Regions from separate parts of the Homo sapiens genome. Here region 1 is linked to region 2. A link means that fine-mapping ties the variant in region 2 to the expression of a gene that starts in the linked region. Tissue or cell type: whole blood. Region 2 holds a variant in brackets; the other region holds the start of a gene. All regions are shown on one strand. Distances are between the middles of the regions.

The links. PIP is the estimated chance that this variant, and not a neighbour inherited with it, causes the effect.
Region 1: BOK starts here. The variant in region 2 is fine-mapped to the expression of BOK in whole blood (TOPMed, PIP above 0.99).

What each region holds. Positions count from the first base shown.
Region 1 is chr2:241,554,515-241,562,595 of GRCh38, forward strand. It overlaps BOK (BCL2 family apoptosis regulator BOK), which reads left to right and starts at 4,231. Exons shown (of 5, transcript NM_032515.5): 1 at 4,231-4,479; 2 at 4,941-5,189; 3 at 7,834-7,962. The coding sequence starts at 4,970. BOK-AS1 (BOK antisense RNA 1) reads right to left here and starts at 4,629. Exons shown (of 2, transcript NR_033346.1): 1 at 4,263-4,629. RefSeq lists silencers at 4,894-4,973, 5,004-5,073, 5,124-5,253.
Region 2 is chr2:241,602,093-241,610,191 of GRCh38, forward strand. THAP4 (THAP domain containing 4) reads right to left here. Exons shown (of 6, transcript NM_015963.6): 3 at 4,222-4,381; 4 at 878-987. Among named protein-coding and RNA genes, the nearest start is that of THAP4, 31 kb to the right of the region's middle. RefSeq lists enhancers at 6,372-6,541, 7,448-7,949, 7,950-8,099 and a silencer at 7,900-8,099. The variant CA/C (reference allele first, on the strand shown) is at 4,888.

The sequences.
Region 1 (8,081 bases), 48 kb before region 2:
GGTATGAGACCCAGGCCTGACTGCTTAACACCTTCCCCATGTCCAGCCACAGCTGGCTTGGAAATGGACAGAGTACAGAAGCTGCCCACCCCAAGGGATCTCCCAGAGCTACCTGGACAGCCCGACTTTTTTCCACTGGCAAAGCCTGAACTTGTGAGGTATATACAGGGAGCTGTGGGCTTTATCCTGCAATTACACCAGGACAGTCTGTCTGAGAGTGGAGCCATCACAGGGGAGCACAGATGGAAAGAGACTCCTGGATCCAGCTATGCCTGAAACCAACCGACCTCTCTCTGGTCACACAAATCAACAAACTGCCCTGTGCTTAAGCCAGTCTGGTGGGCTGGTATCAGCGCTCAGAAGCCCACTCACCAACCAGGGACCGAGTTCCATGCTAGGTCAACACTGGGGCAGAGAGAGGAGTCAGTTGCATGGCAAGAGTGGATGTAAGAGTTCTGCAGAGACAGAAAATCAGGGCCAAAGGTGACCGGAGAAATGTAGGCTCCCAAGAAGTCAAAGCACTCTTGGGAAATTGAGGGCTGGGACTGGGCCTCCTCCAGGTCTCAGTGGACAGGAAGACCTCAGCTAACTCCAGCATGACCCAAGTTTTTTAAGGTCTGAATAAGGGTTTGCGGTCTAGGTACTCCAGATTGCTTAATCTCCTCATCTGCTCTCTTTTTAAAATTTGTTTTAGAAACCCGTCTTTGCTAAGTTGCCCAGGCTGAGTGCAGTGGCTATTCACAGGCACTACAGCCCTGAACTCCTGGGCTCAAGCAATCCTCTTGCTTCAGTCTCCCAAGGAGCTGGGACTACTAGTGCGGTGTCACCATGCTGGGCTTGATCTCTTCATAAACACTGAGGTCATTTTTTTTTTTTTTTGAGACAAAGTCTCGTTCTGTTGCCCAGGCTGGAGTGCAGTGGCATGAGCTCGGCTCACCGCAACCTCCGACTCCTGGGTTCAAGCAATTCTCCTGTCTCAGCCTCCCGAGTAGCTGGGATTACAGACATGCGCCACCACGCCTGGCTAATTTTTTGTATTTTTAGTAGAAACGGAGTCTCACCTTGTTGGTCAAGCTGGTCTCGAACTCCTAACCTCAGGTGATCCACATGCCTCAGCCTCCCAAAGTGCTGGGATTACAGGCATGAGCCACCACGCCTGGCACACTTAGGTCATTTTCAGTTCCTTACTGCTAGCAATGTTCCATATTGAACATCCAGAGACACAGCTTTACCTGGTTTCTGCAGCTCCTGGGATGCAGAACATGTCTATCAATTATGCCCAGTGGCCCACTACCCCCATGTCAGAGCCCAGGAGACGGCTCCAACAGGAGACAGGAAGCAGGAAGTATGAGTTCATTCTGCACAGGAGGAAACTGAGCCTGTGAATGGGGCAGGAAGTTGCCTGAGGCTACACAGCGGGAAGGTTGCAGGTGTGAGCTTCCTGGTCTCCTGCCTGCAAGTACAGGCTCTTCCCCTGACAGAGGTACTTCAGGAACCATGGAGTTAGACCCCAAGGTTTACAGTCTGGCCATGCCCAGTCTTGCAGTGACTCCTTGGGCGAGATCTTTTCCCTCTCTGCATTTCTGTAATGCTATCTACAGGGAATCCCAAACCTGACTGCTCTTCAGAAATCTGAGGCGCACACTGTCCAAGGAGCTCTAGACTCTACATTAAAGAGTTCATTAAAATGCACCCTCAGATTTTACTGTACTACAGCTTTTCTGAAAAAGCAGCTAACAATGACTGAGCACTTACTACATGACATGGATTAAGAATTCAGTCCTCCCAGGCTGGGCGCTGTGGCTTACGCCTATAATCCCAGAACTTTGTGATGCCAAGGCAGGTAGATCACGAGGTCAAGAGATCGAGACCATCCTGGCCAACATGGTGAAACCCCCTCTCTACCAAAAATACAAACAATTAGCCGGGCGTGGTGTCAGGTGCCTGTAGTCCCAGCTACTCGGGAGGCTGAGGCAGGAGAATCGCTGGAGCCCAGGAGGCGGGGTTGCAGTGAGCCGAGTTTACGCCATTGCACTCCAGCCTGGCAACAGAGCGAGACTCCGTCTCAAAAAAAAAAAAAAAAAAAAAGAATTCAGTCCTCTCAACAATCCTAGGAGGTAGGTATTATTATTCTTCCTACTTCCCAGACAGGAAAGTCATAGCAGATAGAAGTTCCATAGCTTTCCTAGCTTCTGGTAATGTTCCTGACAGGTTTCGGTATTAAAATTACATTGACCTCATAAAATGAGTTGGGAAATACTCCCTCATTTTTAGTCTCTGTGCAGGTTTGTATGAGACTGGTGGTATTTTTTTAACTGTTGAGAAGAATTTCTCAATGAAACCATCTGAACCTAGAATTTTCTTTGTGGGAAGATTTTAAATTACAGATTCAATGCATTTAATTGGTGTAGGACTATCCAGATTTTCTATTTCTTTTAGTGTCAGTTTTGGTAAGTTGTGTATCATCTAAAATTTCAAATGCACTGTCAAAAAGTCCTCCATACTATCTTTTTATCCCTTTAATGCTTGTAGTATCTACAGTGATGTCCTCTTTTTCATTCTTGATAGTGAAATTTGTGTTATCTTTTTTCTTACTCAATCTTTCTGGGGATTTATCAGTTCTATTAATCTCTTCAAAGAACCAATTTTTGGCTTTGTTGATTTTCTCTATTTTTTGCTTTATTCCATTAATTTCTGCTCTTATTTTTATTATTTCCTTTCATCTTTAGTTTTATTGTTCTTTTCTAGCTTCTTGAGTGGAAGCTTAGAGCAGTAATTTTATTTTTCTTTTTCCTTTTTTTTTTTTTTTTTTGAGATGGAATCACACTCTGTTGTCCAGGCTGGAGTGCAGGTGGGATGATCTCTGCTCACTGCAACCTTCGCCTCCCAGGTTCAAGCAATTCTCCTGCCTCAGCCTCCTTAGTAGCTGGGATTACAGACACCTGCCACCACACCCAACTCATTTTTTGTATCTCTAGTAGAGACGGGGTTTTCACCATTTTGACCCGGCTGGTCTCAAACTCCTGAGCTCAGGTGATCTGCCCACCTAGGCCTCCCAAAATGCTGGGATTACAGGTCTGAGTCATTTCACCTGGCCTAATTTTCAATCCTTCTTCTAAAGCTATCAAATTTCCTCTAAGCAGTGTTTTAGTTGCACTGTACAGCATTTGATATGTCTTATTTTTCACTGTTCTTGTCAACATATTTTAATCTTCCACTGTGATTATTGACCCATTGATTATTTAGAAGTGTGACATGTAATTTCCAAGCATTTGCAGATTTTCCAGTAATTTTTCTGTTATTGACTTTTAATTCAGAGAGGACACACTGTAAGATTTCAATCCGTTGAGATTTGCTGAGACTTGTATAAGGTCCATGATATGGTCTATTTCGATAAACATCCTATGTGCACATGGGAAGAATAAGTATTTTATAGTGTTGTACACACGTGAATTAGGCCAAGTTGGTTAATCCTATTGTTCAAACTGTGTGAGGTTGATTCAAGGATAAAGAAATAAACCAGTGGGATAGAGTTCCGAGACACACACACACACACACACACACTCTTCAGCTGATTTATGTTGAGATGTTGGGGACTCCTCCAATTCGGTGGAAAAAAAATGATGCTTTTCAATAAATGATGCCAGGTCAATTGGATATCTACACGAAAAAAAATGAGCTCTAGCCCCGTACCACACCATTCACAATAATTAATATGTAATCAATCATAGATCTAAATATGAGCCCTAAAACAAGCTTCTAAAAGGAAATACAGGAGGATATCCCAATAAAAAGGTACTAACCATAAAGAAAATATTGATAAATTGGACATCACTAAGAGTAACTCCTGTTCATCCAAAGCAAAAGTAAACCACAAAATAGAGGAAGATATTTGCAATAACTTCAATAAATGCGAATCCAATAATCCATCTACAATACAAAGGGCATGCGTCCGGACCAAGAACACGTCTCCAGACTCTGGAAAGAACCTCTACGAACGAAGAAGACAACCCAATTTTCAAATGGACCCCGGGGAACACCCAGGCGGCTGGGGCTGGCTCTAGGTCCCCACTGCTCTGCCTTGCGGGGGCCGCTCCGGCCTGGTCGCCTTCTCCGGGCGCATCCAGGGAACTCGCTCGGTCCTCCTTAAGCGGGGAAGCTCGGAAAGCGTCTCCCCGACTCCGCCCCCAGGGTTGCCTTTCCCTTAGAAGGCCAAGCCCCAAGCCCAGCCTCTCGCCAGCTGGGAGTCGCGCGCTGCCCACCTCGCTGCCCAGGCCCCCGACGCCGCGGCAGGAGCCCCCCAAGAGCGCGGGAAGCCCCGTGGACCTGGCGCTCCCGGCTCGGGCGTGGACGGGGCGGGCGCCGGGGCGGGGCGCGCGTCCTCGCGGGTCTGAATGGAAGGGTCGAGGTCGTCGTCGGCGGCGAGCAGATCCTGAAGCCAGAACTCCACCCCGGCGCCCGCGCCATGCGGCGGGAGAGGTGAGCGCGGCGGGCGTGGCGTCCGTGCCGGGGTGCCCGGGGTGCCACGGGAACGGCGAGGCCGGGGACACGCGCGCAGGACGCCAGCGGCGGAGGTGGGCGGCCCCGGGCCGGGGCGGGGAGGGCCGGGTCCTGGCAGTCGCCGTGGGGGACGCGCTGGGCTGTGCCCTCCGCCCCCGCCGCCCACGCACTCGTCTTCGAGGGCGGGCCCGGCGGCCCCGGAGCAAACCGCCGTCTCCCCGCGGCCCCACCGGTCCCTGGCAGCCTCGGGGAATGTCTGTAGCTGAATTCGGGCTCTGAAAGAAGGTGGCGCTGGGTTTTTAAAGATTTGGGGCACAAAAAACGAGAGCGGACCCGGCGCCGGCTACGGCCCTTCCCGAGGGCCACGCCCAGCCCGGCGCCCCGCGCGCCCCGTTCCCCGCGCCGCCTCCCTCCACCCGGCTGAGCGCTTGTGCCCGCAGGTGCGGCGCCCCCCACCCGCGTCGCCGCCATGGAGGTGCTGCGGCGCTCCTCGGTCTTCGCCGCCGAGATCATGGACGCCTTTGACCGCTCGCCCACAGACAAGGAGCTGGTGGCCCAGGCCAAGGCGCTGGGCCGGGAGTACGTGCACGCGCGGCTGCTGCGCGCCGGCCTCTCCTGGAGCGCGCCCGAGCGTGCCGCGCCGGTCCCGGGACGCCTGGCTGAGGTGTGCGCGGTGCTGCTGCGCCTGGGTGAGTGCGCCCTGGTGGGATCCCCAGCTGCGCCTCCTCCCCTGCTGGGCCGCAGCCTCCCTCCGAGGCCGAGATGGGGGTCCGGCCCAGGGGCGCCCACCCCCTGCCTGGGACGGCCAGGCGCTCGGGACAGGGCCACCCAGGCGGGTGCTCCCGGATCTGCCCTCTCAGGCCTCCCACGCCACAGGCCCCCCCATCAGCTGCCTGCTCAGCCCAGATTTCAGTCATGCTGGCCATAAACAATAGAAAGCTCCAGAAAGAATAATCTATTAGTGGGTGGCTAAGCTTCCACAGTGACCCTTGTTCTCAGCTGGGCACAGAAACCCTTTGTAGGAGCACGTGTCCCGATGTTTATTTTGGAAAACAGATTCTTGCTGTTACTGGCCGAGATCCCGCCCGCTGCCCTCTGGATTCCGAGGCCTCCGAGGCCCCCCCATTGGAAACTGCGCCCACCGGGCTGGGTAGCCAAAACCTCAGTATTCGTTGGTGCTGTGAGGACATCTGGGGGTGCTCGGTTCTGGGGTCACACACGGTCCACTGGCTGCCCCCACCGTCTCCAAGGTCTGGACCCAAGAGGGAGGGACCAGCCCCACTGTGACTGTCCAGTCCCCTCACCACAGCTGGGCTGTGGCCGTCACCTGGGAATGTTTATGTGATGCCCGAAGAGGGCACATGGGGCGCCTGTGGCTGAGCCCGGGAAGGGGAGGTGACAGCATAGGTGAAACTGAATCGGTGGCTCTCCAGGCAGGGGGTTGGAGTCGGAGGGCACGACCCCGTGAGGGGACACGCTGCCTCCTCTCAGGCTGGCGCTGGCATGGGCTCTAGGTGGCCCCTGCCCTTACGTGGTGGGCTGGGCCCAGAGAGCAAAGCTGTGTAGACCTGGCCTGCCCAGGAGTGTGTGTGGGGTGCAGACAGAATCCATGGGGACCAGCACAGAGCCTCCAGGAGGAGGTGGAGTCCCATCTGAGAAGTTCAGAAGGAGGGAGAGGTCTCTGGGTGGGAGCTAGGGGGTTGGTGGGGCTCCATGAGATCCGCCGCCTGCTGCTGCCTCTAGTCGGGCTCTGAGAATGACCCTAGGGGATCCTTTTAGTGGCCTTCTGAAAAGATGATGCCAGACCCCTGGAATGGCTGGGAAGAAGTCCCAGATGTCTAGGGGGACCCCAGAGGGACACAGCTCAGACCTGCATCTGCCCTCACGGCTGCTCAGGGTCAGTCCCTTGAGGCCAGCGCTGTCTCCCTGCCCTTGGGCAGTGCAGACAGGAAGAAGCCCGGGTTGTGTCCCCACCTTCAGTCTGGGGCCAGCCTGCAGCAGCCCCGGAGATCTGTGTTTGGGAGCTGCCGGGTCAGTCCTGGGAATTTCCATGTCGTCCCCCGCCCCCAGCCAGCCTCTCATGGGCTCTGCTCTGCTTCCAGATCTTAATTAATGAGATACAGAGCAGCCTTTATCAGCTGGGATGGTCCGGTCAGCAGCATTACCCTGTTTGCTTTGGCTGGAGAACTGGCCGGGCTGCGGACTCCCAATCCCAGGGCCCTGTGGCATTCTCGGCACCATCTGCCCCGTGCCTGTGCGCTGCTGCTGCCAAGGGTGCCACAGGCAGCACTGGGGCGGTGGGCCTGTAGGGGCCATCCTCGGCTGCCAGGGGCAGGGCTGATGCAGTGCCACCTCCAAGCACATCCCCTTGGCAGCAAGAGCCCAGGTGGGAGCGTGGCAGTGAGGGTGGCCCAGGACAGCGGCCCAGCCAGCCCAGGTGGGAGCGTGGCAGTGCGGGTGGCCCAGGACAGGGGCCCAGCCAGCCCAGGTGGGAGCGTGGCAGTGCGGGTGGCCCAGGACAGCGGCCCAGCCAGCCCAGGTGGGAGCGTGGCAGTGCGGGTGGCCCAGGACAGGGGCCCAGCCAGCCCAGGTGGGAGCGTGGCAGTGCGGGTGGCCCAGGACAGCGGCCCAGCCAGCCCAGGTGGGAGCGTGGCAGTGCGGGTGGCCCAGGACAGGGGCCCAGCCAGCCCAGGTGGGAGCGTGGCAGTGCGGGTGGCCCAGGACAGCGGCCCAGCCAGCCCAGGTGGGAGCGTGGCAGTGCGGGTGGCCCAGGACAGCGGCTCAGCCTCTGCATCTGAGTGGTCCCTGAGCCATGCTAGGGCCTGAGCCGGGCTCTCGGGCTGTCCCCTGCTCTCACCCCAATGCTTTCTCTGCCCAGCCCCTCCCCACGTCGGGCTCCCCTGCTCTCACCCCAGTGCTTTCTCTGCCCAGCCCCTCCCCACGTCGGGGTCTGGCCGTCTGCCTGGTCCCTCCTGCTCTGGGCAGCTCGGCTGCCTGTCGGCTGTGAGTCACCAGCAGGCACGGCCCACGCTCTCGCAGGATTCCCGCCCCACCGGCTTGGCCGGCTAGGCTTAGGGGCTGGCTCGTCAGAGGGGCGGGACTGGGGGCGCCTTCAGTACTTCCTTGGTCTTCTGGTCCCTAGGGGCCAAGGTTGGGGGATGGCCCAAGGGAGGTCAGATGGGGTCAAGTGGAGGTGGGAATCAGACAAGTGAGGAACAGGCTGGAATTCAAGCATGGTCAGGTGGGGGTCAGGTGCAGGGTGTGCCCCAAGCCAGTCGTGTCCCAGGAAGCTGGGACGTGGGCTGCCTCTCACCTGCTCTTGTGACCACACAGGCGATGAGCTGGAGATGATCCGGCCCAGCGTCTACCGCAACGTGGCGCGTCAGCTGCACATCTCCCTGCAGTCTGAGCCTGTGGTGACCGATGCGTTCCTGGCCGTGGCTGGCCACATCTTCTCTGCAGGTATGCCCAGCCTGCCCGTCCCATGGGACCTCAGGGAGGGATCCAGGGTCTGTGGCTCAGGCTCACAGGGACCCCACGAGCTGGCCCCCACCCATCCTGGCGCTGCCCAGTGCCCACCG
Region 2 (8,099 bases):
GAGGCCCCAACTCTGCAGCTGTGGAAGCAACGATATTTCTCCTCCTCCCCACTTCACCCTGTGGATACGGAGGGAAAGCCACAACTCTCCTCACAGAACAGGCAGGTGCTCTATGGAAGGCCACCCTCTCCAGACTGGGCCCCAGCCCTCCCACCTCCACCCACCAATCAGCCTGGCAGAACCACCCCTAGCACATACAGTGGCAGAAGTCGCAGGTGGGAATGGACGTCCAGGAAGAAACACTGATCTAGAGTCACGCAGGCTGGTTTTTTTTTTTTTCTTTTTTTTTTGAGACAGAATCTCGCTCTGTTGCCCAGGCTGGAGTGCAGTGGCGCATTCTTGGCTCACCGCAACCTCTGCCTCCCAGGTTCAAGTGATTCTCCTGCCTCAGCCTCCCAAGTGGCTTGGGATTACAGGCATGCACCACCACACCCAGCTAATTTTTGTATTTTTAGTAGAGACGGGATTTCAGTATGTTGGCCAGGCTGGTCTTGAACTCCTGACCTCAAGTGATCTGCCCACCTAGGCCTCCCAAAGTGCTGGGATTACAGGCGTGAGCCACTGTGCCCAACCTGTTTTCCAGCAATTCCTAATGAATGCACACAGCTGATGGCCATTTCTGCAGACGTGGCACTGGGTAAACGGGCCCTCATGGTCAGGGGGCTGCACGCACACAACCTGTGTGCCGGAGGCCCCTACAGCTACACAGTCGGCCCCGCAGGCTCCCAGGACCACTCTCAACACTCAGGGCCATCCCCACGGTCCCCACCAGCACATGCCTCAGCAGGGTTGCACATGGGCATCCCTGCACCCCTGCTTCGAATGCAGGCAGCAGCCTCCCATGGCCAGCCCTCCCGCCCCGCAAGCTGGGCCTCACCTGTGTTCTGGGCGCTGACAAAGGCCACCTTGTTGGTGTCGGGCTTGAGGCGAATGAAGCCACACTCTCTGTGCATCGGCTTGCGCGTGTCCGGGTGGAAGGAGTTGAACCTGGACGGGAAGTTGGAGTTGAGAAGCCCAGGCACTGGCCTCCAAGATGGCGTGGGCTGCGTGGATGCCAGAACTGTCCAGGGTGCCCTCCAGGTGGCTGCTCCAGCCACACCCGCACACCTGTCTGCCCCTACCACCACCTTGCTCATTTTGGCTGTGTCTGTCTTACCTGCTGACCCTCCACTCCTGAAGACGGGCTGTTCCAGCCACGCCCACACACCTGCCCGCCCCCTCCACCACCTTGCTCATTTTGGCTGTGTCTGTCTTGCCTGCTGACCCTCAGCTCCTGAAGACGGGCTGTTCCAGCCACACCCGCACACCTGCCCGCCCCCTCCAGCGCCTTGCTCATTTTGGCTGTGTCTGTCTTACCTGCTGACCCTCAGCTCCTGAAGACGGGCTGTTCCAGCCACACCCGCACACCTGCCCGCCCCCTCCACCACCTTGCTCATTTTGGCTGTGTCTGTCTTGCCTGCTGACCCTCAGCTCCTGAAGACAGCACTGTTCTTAATCACCTCAGGGCATATCCTTGCCCTGGGCCCGTTAGCCCAGGCCTCACACAGTGTCAGCCCTCAGCACTCCCTTGCAGTAAACCTCACCCTAACACAATCTTTCTCTTTTGAGCTATGCTCTTGTGTAAGAATCTAATCAATTCCTACGGTAAAAAACAGAACAGGTGCTGAGTTATGGTATGGTTTCTTATCACCCTTCATCATTAGTGCAAATTCTCAACAGTAAAAGACAGGCACCTGCATCTTGAACTGAGGGCACAAAACCACGGCTTAAAAACTAACTCGCTGGCATGGTGACTCAAGGCCGTAATCCCAGCACTTCAGGGGCCCAGTCGGGTAGATCTCTTGAGCCTAGGAATTTGAGACAGGGCTGGGCAACACAGACCCTGTTTCTACAAAAATAAAAACAAAAAAACCAAACCAAAAAAAAAAAAGCCTCATTTATCATTTCACCAACCTTATGAGTTTCTATAGGGAATCCATCTCTATGATTCTTAGAGATAAACTTTATTTATTTATTTTTTTGCTCTGTCACCCAGGCTCGTCGCGGTCTCAGCTCAGTGAAACCTCCGCTTCCTGGGTTGAAATGATTCTCCTGTCTCAGCCTCCTGAGTAGCTGGGATTACAGGCGCCCACCACACCCGGCTAATTTATTTATTTATTTATTTATTTATTTTTTGAGACAGAGTTTCTCTCTTGTTGCCCAGGCTGGAGTGCAATGGCGCTATCTTGGCTCACTGCAACCTCCGCCTCCTGAGTTCAAGCGATTCTCCTGCCTCAGCCTTACCGAGTAGCTGGGATTACAGGCATGCGCCACCATGCCCGGCTAATTTTGTAATTTTAGTAGAGACCAGGTTTCTCCATGTTGGTCAGGCTGATCTTGAACTCCCAACCTCAGGTGATCTGCCCACCTCAGCCTCTCAAAGTGCTGGGATTACAGGTGTGAGCCACTGTGCCCAGCCACACACCCGGCTAATTTTTGTATTTTTGTATTTTTTTTTAGTAGAGACACAATTTCACCACATTGGCCAGGCTGGTCTCGAACTCTTGACTTCTAGTGATCCACCTGCCTTGACCTCCCAAAGTGCTGGGATTACAGGCGTCAGCCACCGCACCTGGCCAAGATAAACTTATTTATTTATTAAAACAAATTTTTTTAGGGTCTCACTGTGTTGCCCAGGCTGGTCTTGGACTCCTGGACTCAAGTGATCCACCCGCCTTGGCCTCCCAAAGTGCTGGGATTACAGGCACGAGCCACCGCGCTGGGCCAAGATAAATTTCTGTTGGGCTAGTGATGGTGCTACACCTTCTAGAATGGTACATGCTCACTAACATAACCCCGACAAAGAAATACATTTATACCATATTCTAGGACACACACACAAACACACATACCATCACATTTACTGAAATATATTTTCCACTCTGGTTCATTTTTCTTCGAATGCTAGTCACAAAATTGACTTTCTGACCTTTTCGTGGGTTATAATCTATAGTTTAAAAAAGACTGCTTGGGTTCTGGGTTATTTTGTATTACCCAGAATTCTCACCTTTTGGTTTATGTGCAGATGTATTACTTTGACCTCATGCATTCAATCAATAATAATATAAAAAGGTAGGAGATATTTTTAAAAACAATGAGATCTTCTAAAAGGGGATGGAGGGTCTCAGAGCTGGGGGTCTGAGAGCCAGGTGCCCAGCCCCGTTCTGAAACTGCTAGGCATTATACAAATAGTACCAAGTTGGTTTAATAAGATTCTTAACATATAGTTGTGTAATGGAGACTAAGGGAGGGTTTGCTTTTTATATTTTGTTTAAACTTTAAAAAAACTGTGTATTACTTCTATAATTAAAAAATAAAGATACTTCAACCACTCCCCATCCCTGGTGGCTCTCCTCTACTTCAGAGGCCTACACTGCTATCTCCCTAAAAGCAGGCAATTTCTCCACCTGTGGGGAGCAGGTGGTGGGAAGGGATACTGAGGGACCTCAAGGGGCTTTTGCTTTCTTGTACGGTAAGAATATGAGAACCACATACTAACAGCTTCCTTGTGACCCCAAATAGCTCAGGGGTACGTGTAAAATACAAACATGCACTATTATTTTCAGTAATATTGGGTGACTAATTTTTTTCTTTTTTTTTTTGAGACAGGTTCTCACTCTGTCACCCAGGCTGGAGTACAGTGTTATGATCACAGCTCACTGTAGCCTTGGCCCTCCCTGGGTTCAAGCAATCCTCCCACCTCAGTTTCTCGAGTAGCTGGGACTACAGGCATGTGTCACCACACCTGGCTAAATACTTTTCAGTAGAGACAAGGTCTCACTATGTTGCCCAGGCTGGTCTTCAATTCCTAAGCTCAAGCAATCCTCCTGACTCAGCCTCTAAAGTGCTGGGATTACAGGTATGAGCTACCGCACTGGCCAGGGTGATTAATTTTGATACATAAATTAAGTACATGCATTTGTTTTTATGTTTGGATTAACAAGCCTGTAATTTGGTGGTCAGCTTAATATCTCCAAAAATATAACAGAACCAGAAAGTATCATTTTTACCACTCTGTGTCTCAGTTGCACATTCAGGCAAGAGGACACCTTTCTGAAATAGATGGACAAGTTCCTTTTACACCTTCCTGCTTGGCCTTTGTCTTTGATCAGTCTGGAATTATTTTCAGAGACCTAGGCGGCCCATGAGTCAAGCAGGGTGGGGTGGAGGGAGACAACTTACGAGAAGTTCAGCATGGGCTGGCCCACGTGGGAGATGTGAACCTCCTCCAGGTACTGGAAGGGCTGCAGTGTGGGGTAGGTCCCGGCTCCAGGTGGGTCCGACAGCCAGGTGCCCAGCATCCAGGACAGTGGCTCCACCACTGGGTTCATCTTGGGGGGCTCTGAGGACAAAAGAATGAGACTATCAGTGGCCTCCCTCCAACCATGCCTTGCTGAGCTTTAAGCAGAATGCACGTTCCATATCGACGCTTGCTTCTGGTGGCCACAGCTAATCCTGGGGGACCTGTCAAGAGCGGGAGAAAATGGTCAAGCAACTGTAAATGTCATAGTGAAAGATCCAGCTTCAGAAGCCTCTGCAGTTCCTGCAGAGAAAAGAGATCCAACAGGGGCCAGGCAGGGCGCAAGCAAAGAGGCCTACACTGCTATCTCCCTAAAAGCAGGCAATTTCTCCACCTGTGGGGTGCAGGTGGTGGGAAGGGATACTGAGGGACCTCAAGGGGCTTTTGCTTTCTTGTACAGTTAAGAATATGAGAACCACATACTAACAGCTTCCTTGTGACCCCAAATAGCTCAGGGGTCCTCCATGTCCTACAGCAAGGCTGAAAGCAGCTCACACGGGAGGCACGGTGCCCTGGCGTGAAGAGTGTGTGAAGGAGACAAAGAGCAT[CA/C]GGGAGAAAATGAAAGGGGATGCAGGGTCTCGGAGCAGCCAGAGTGTGAGGGCCCAGGGGCAGGCGGGGTTTAAAAGGGAAGTAAGACCCCGCTTCCCTGAGGAGGGGCTGGGGCTTCACAGCAGCCTGTGTAGTGGCCAGGAGACCCCTTTAGAAGGTCTCCTGTGGGGTTCAGTCTCTCATCCCACTAAGTGTGAAGGATGACACCACAGGCCTGGAACTCAGAGGTGGGGGTGCAGTGACAGGACAGCAGGGAGGGGCCGCTGGGTTGGCTGTTCTGCTGGGCGAACTCAAAGGGACCCCTGCTTCCTGCCTCGCTCAGCAAGGACTGGGTGCTCCCGAGCGGCTTTTCAGGATTCACTCACATGACCCTCACCCTGGCTGGATGCACGGGCCCTGCTCTTACTCATTTTCTAAGGGAGACCTGTGCGGGGACCACAGGAAAGCCCCACTGCATGCTACCCATCAGGGGCGCTGGAAGAGAAGGACTGATCCCCAGAGGCAATCCCAAAGACCTGCTTCCCAGGCCTGCTTAACCCTCAAGTCTCAGTGCTTCAATTGACAGAACGGACACTGACACCCAGGAGCAGCAGCAGGGACAGAAGCAGCTCTGTGGCCGCACAAGCCTCATCTACGGAGCCCAAAGATGCCCAAGCACAGAGACCGGCCTGCACATCAGGACTGACCCCCGGCGTCTCCTCCAGGCCCGCGCAAGCAGAAGACGGACTGACGGGGACAGGATCAGGACTGACCCCCAGTGTCTCCTCCAGGCCCGCGCAAGCAGAAGACGGACTGACGGGGACAGGATCGGACTGATGCCCAGTGTCTCCTCCAGGCCCGCGCAAGCAGAAGACGGACTGATGGGGACAGGATTGGACTGACCCCCAGTGTCTCCTCCAGGCCCGCGCAAGCAGAAGACAGCTGACGGGGACAGGATCAGGACTGACCCCCGGCGTCTCCTCCAGGCCCGCAAAAGCAGAAGACAGACTGATGGGGACGGGATCAGGACTGACCCCCAGTGTCTCCTCCAGGCCCGCGCAAGCAGAAGACGGACTGACGGGGACAGGAGTTCTTGGAACCATCGCAGCTTCTGAAATTACACAACCTTTGGATTATAAATTCCAGGAAGTCTGGGAAAAGAAGATCGGGGGAAAGGAAAGCAAAGGCTCTGGGGGTGGAGGAGACCACGTCCAAGAACAGCTTGGAACCAAGGAGGGCCGCACATGTGGCCTGGCCCAGTGGCCGAGCCCTGGGGCCCAGAGTGAGAACCGAGGGTGGAGAGCAGGTAATGAGCACTCTGCCTGCTGGCTGCACAGGGCAAACATAGGTGACCTGAAGCAGGAGAGTGGGAGAGTCCGCTCCTTTTCCAGACTGGCCTGTGGTCTTTCAGTATTTCCTTTTTTGTTTTTCTTAAATGATGATTTAAAAATTTTTTATATCAGTATTTCCTCCTCAGACTCCCGGTGAAAAGTGGGAAGGTGAGGATGGGAATATTTGGACTTCAATAAAACTTTCCTAATTAGACAATAAGAGAATTTTTAAATCAAGATTTTCGTTGCAATCTTTCACGGAGATAAGGAATAGAAGCTTCTGAATCCAATGTGTGGCCTCTGGAACGAGGCTTGTGATCTATCATAGCTGATCAATTCTTTCATCATTCAACGTGCTGGACACTCTTCCAGGGAGAAGCTGACGGAACAGTCATACATCCCTACGGAGCATACATCCTAGCGAGGGCAGACAATACACAAGAAATGAGTGAATGATGCAGAACTGAATGTACATTAGGAGATGAGGCAGAAAGGGAGACAGGGCTGTTGGGGCACTGTGAAAACCTACCCAAAAGGGACAAGGACACCCTCCCTGAGAAGTGTGCACAGACCAGGCAGGGGATCAGGGTCCCTGCAGCTACCCTGGAGAAGAGCAGACCAGGTGGAAGTGCCAGAGACGGAGGTCCTGGGTACGTAGGCCTGGTCTTGCTGGAGAGGAACAGGAGGCCAGTGTGGCCAGGGGAAGGAGATCCTCACCCCTCGGAAGGGCCGTGACCTTGACTCTGAGCAGACAGAAGCCCTCGAGAAGGCTGAGTGGGAGGGACGAGGTCTCTGACTGCAACCACAGGAAGCCAGGGAGGGCAATGGCAAAAACCCTTGTGGCAGAGGAGGGTGGCCTGGGCCAGGTGGCCGTGGTGGAGGCAGTGGAAAGGACCTAGCTTCTGGATCTATCTTGAAGGCAGAGCCACCCGGATGTGCTGATGGTTTGGATGTGAAACACGTAAGAAAAGATGGTAACGGAGGTTTCTGGCCTGAGCAATTGAGAAGACAAGTTACCATTAATGGAGAAAAGGAAGAATGAGAAGAACCTTGGGAGGTGTGAAACAGCAAAACTCAGTCACCTGGGATAGCCCAAGTCCTAAGATGGGCTAAACAAACACCATAATTTCTCAGACAGCCAGCTATAGCCTTGGAGACCTTTCAGTTTGGTAGACTTTATCCAGCTCAGCACTGAAAAGAAAGAGGCTTTGGGCCGGGCGCAATGGCTCACTGAACCTGTAATCCCAGCACTTTGGGATGCCGAGACGGGCAGATCACCTCAGGTCAGGAGTTTGAGACCAGCGTGGCCAACGTGGTGAAACGCTGTCTCTATTAAAAATACAAAAATTAGCCGGGCGTGGTGGCACACGCCTGTAATCCCAGTTACTCGGGAGGCTGAGGTACAAGAATTGCTTGAACCCGGGAGGCGGAGGTTGCAGTGAGCCGAGGTCGTGTCACTGCTCTCCAGCCTGGGCGACAGAGACGTTTTCTCAAAAAAAAAAAAAGAAAGAAAGAGGCTTTGCAAACCTCAGGTTTTTGGGCCGGCTCTCTGGCCTGTGCGGAGCACACCCCACAGCGACTGCCACGGGGCTCTGGCTCTCCTGGGACCGGGTGGACCCACTTCCACTGGTGAGCGCAGCCTGCATGGGAGCTGAACCCTGTGGGAAGCGGCACCCCGGGCGCTGGGGAGCAGCGATCCAGAGTCCAGGTTCTGAGCTGCTGCACCGGGGCCGCGATCTCCACCCCTCACGCCCGAGTCCCCGGCACGGCCACCACCGGCCCCTGGGTCCCGAGGGCCCCGAGGAAGAGGCCAAGGGGCCTGGCGGCGCCCCCCAGGGTCCCAGTGGAACAGGGGCACCAGGGCCGCGGCGCCGGGCATGGCCTTCACACTCCCCACGAGG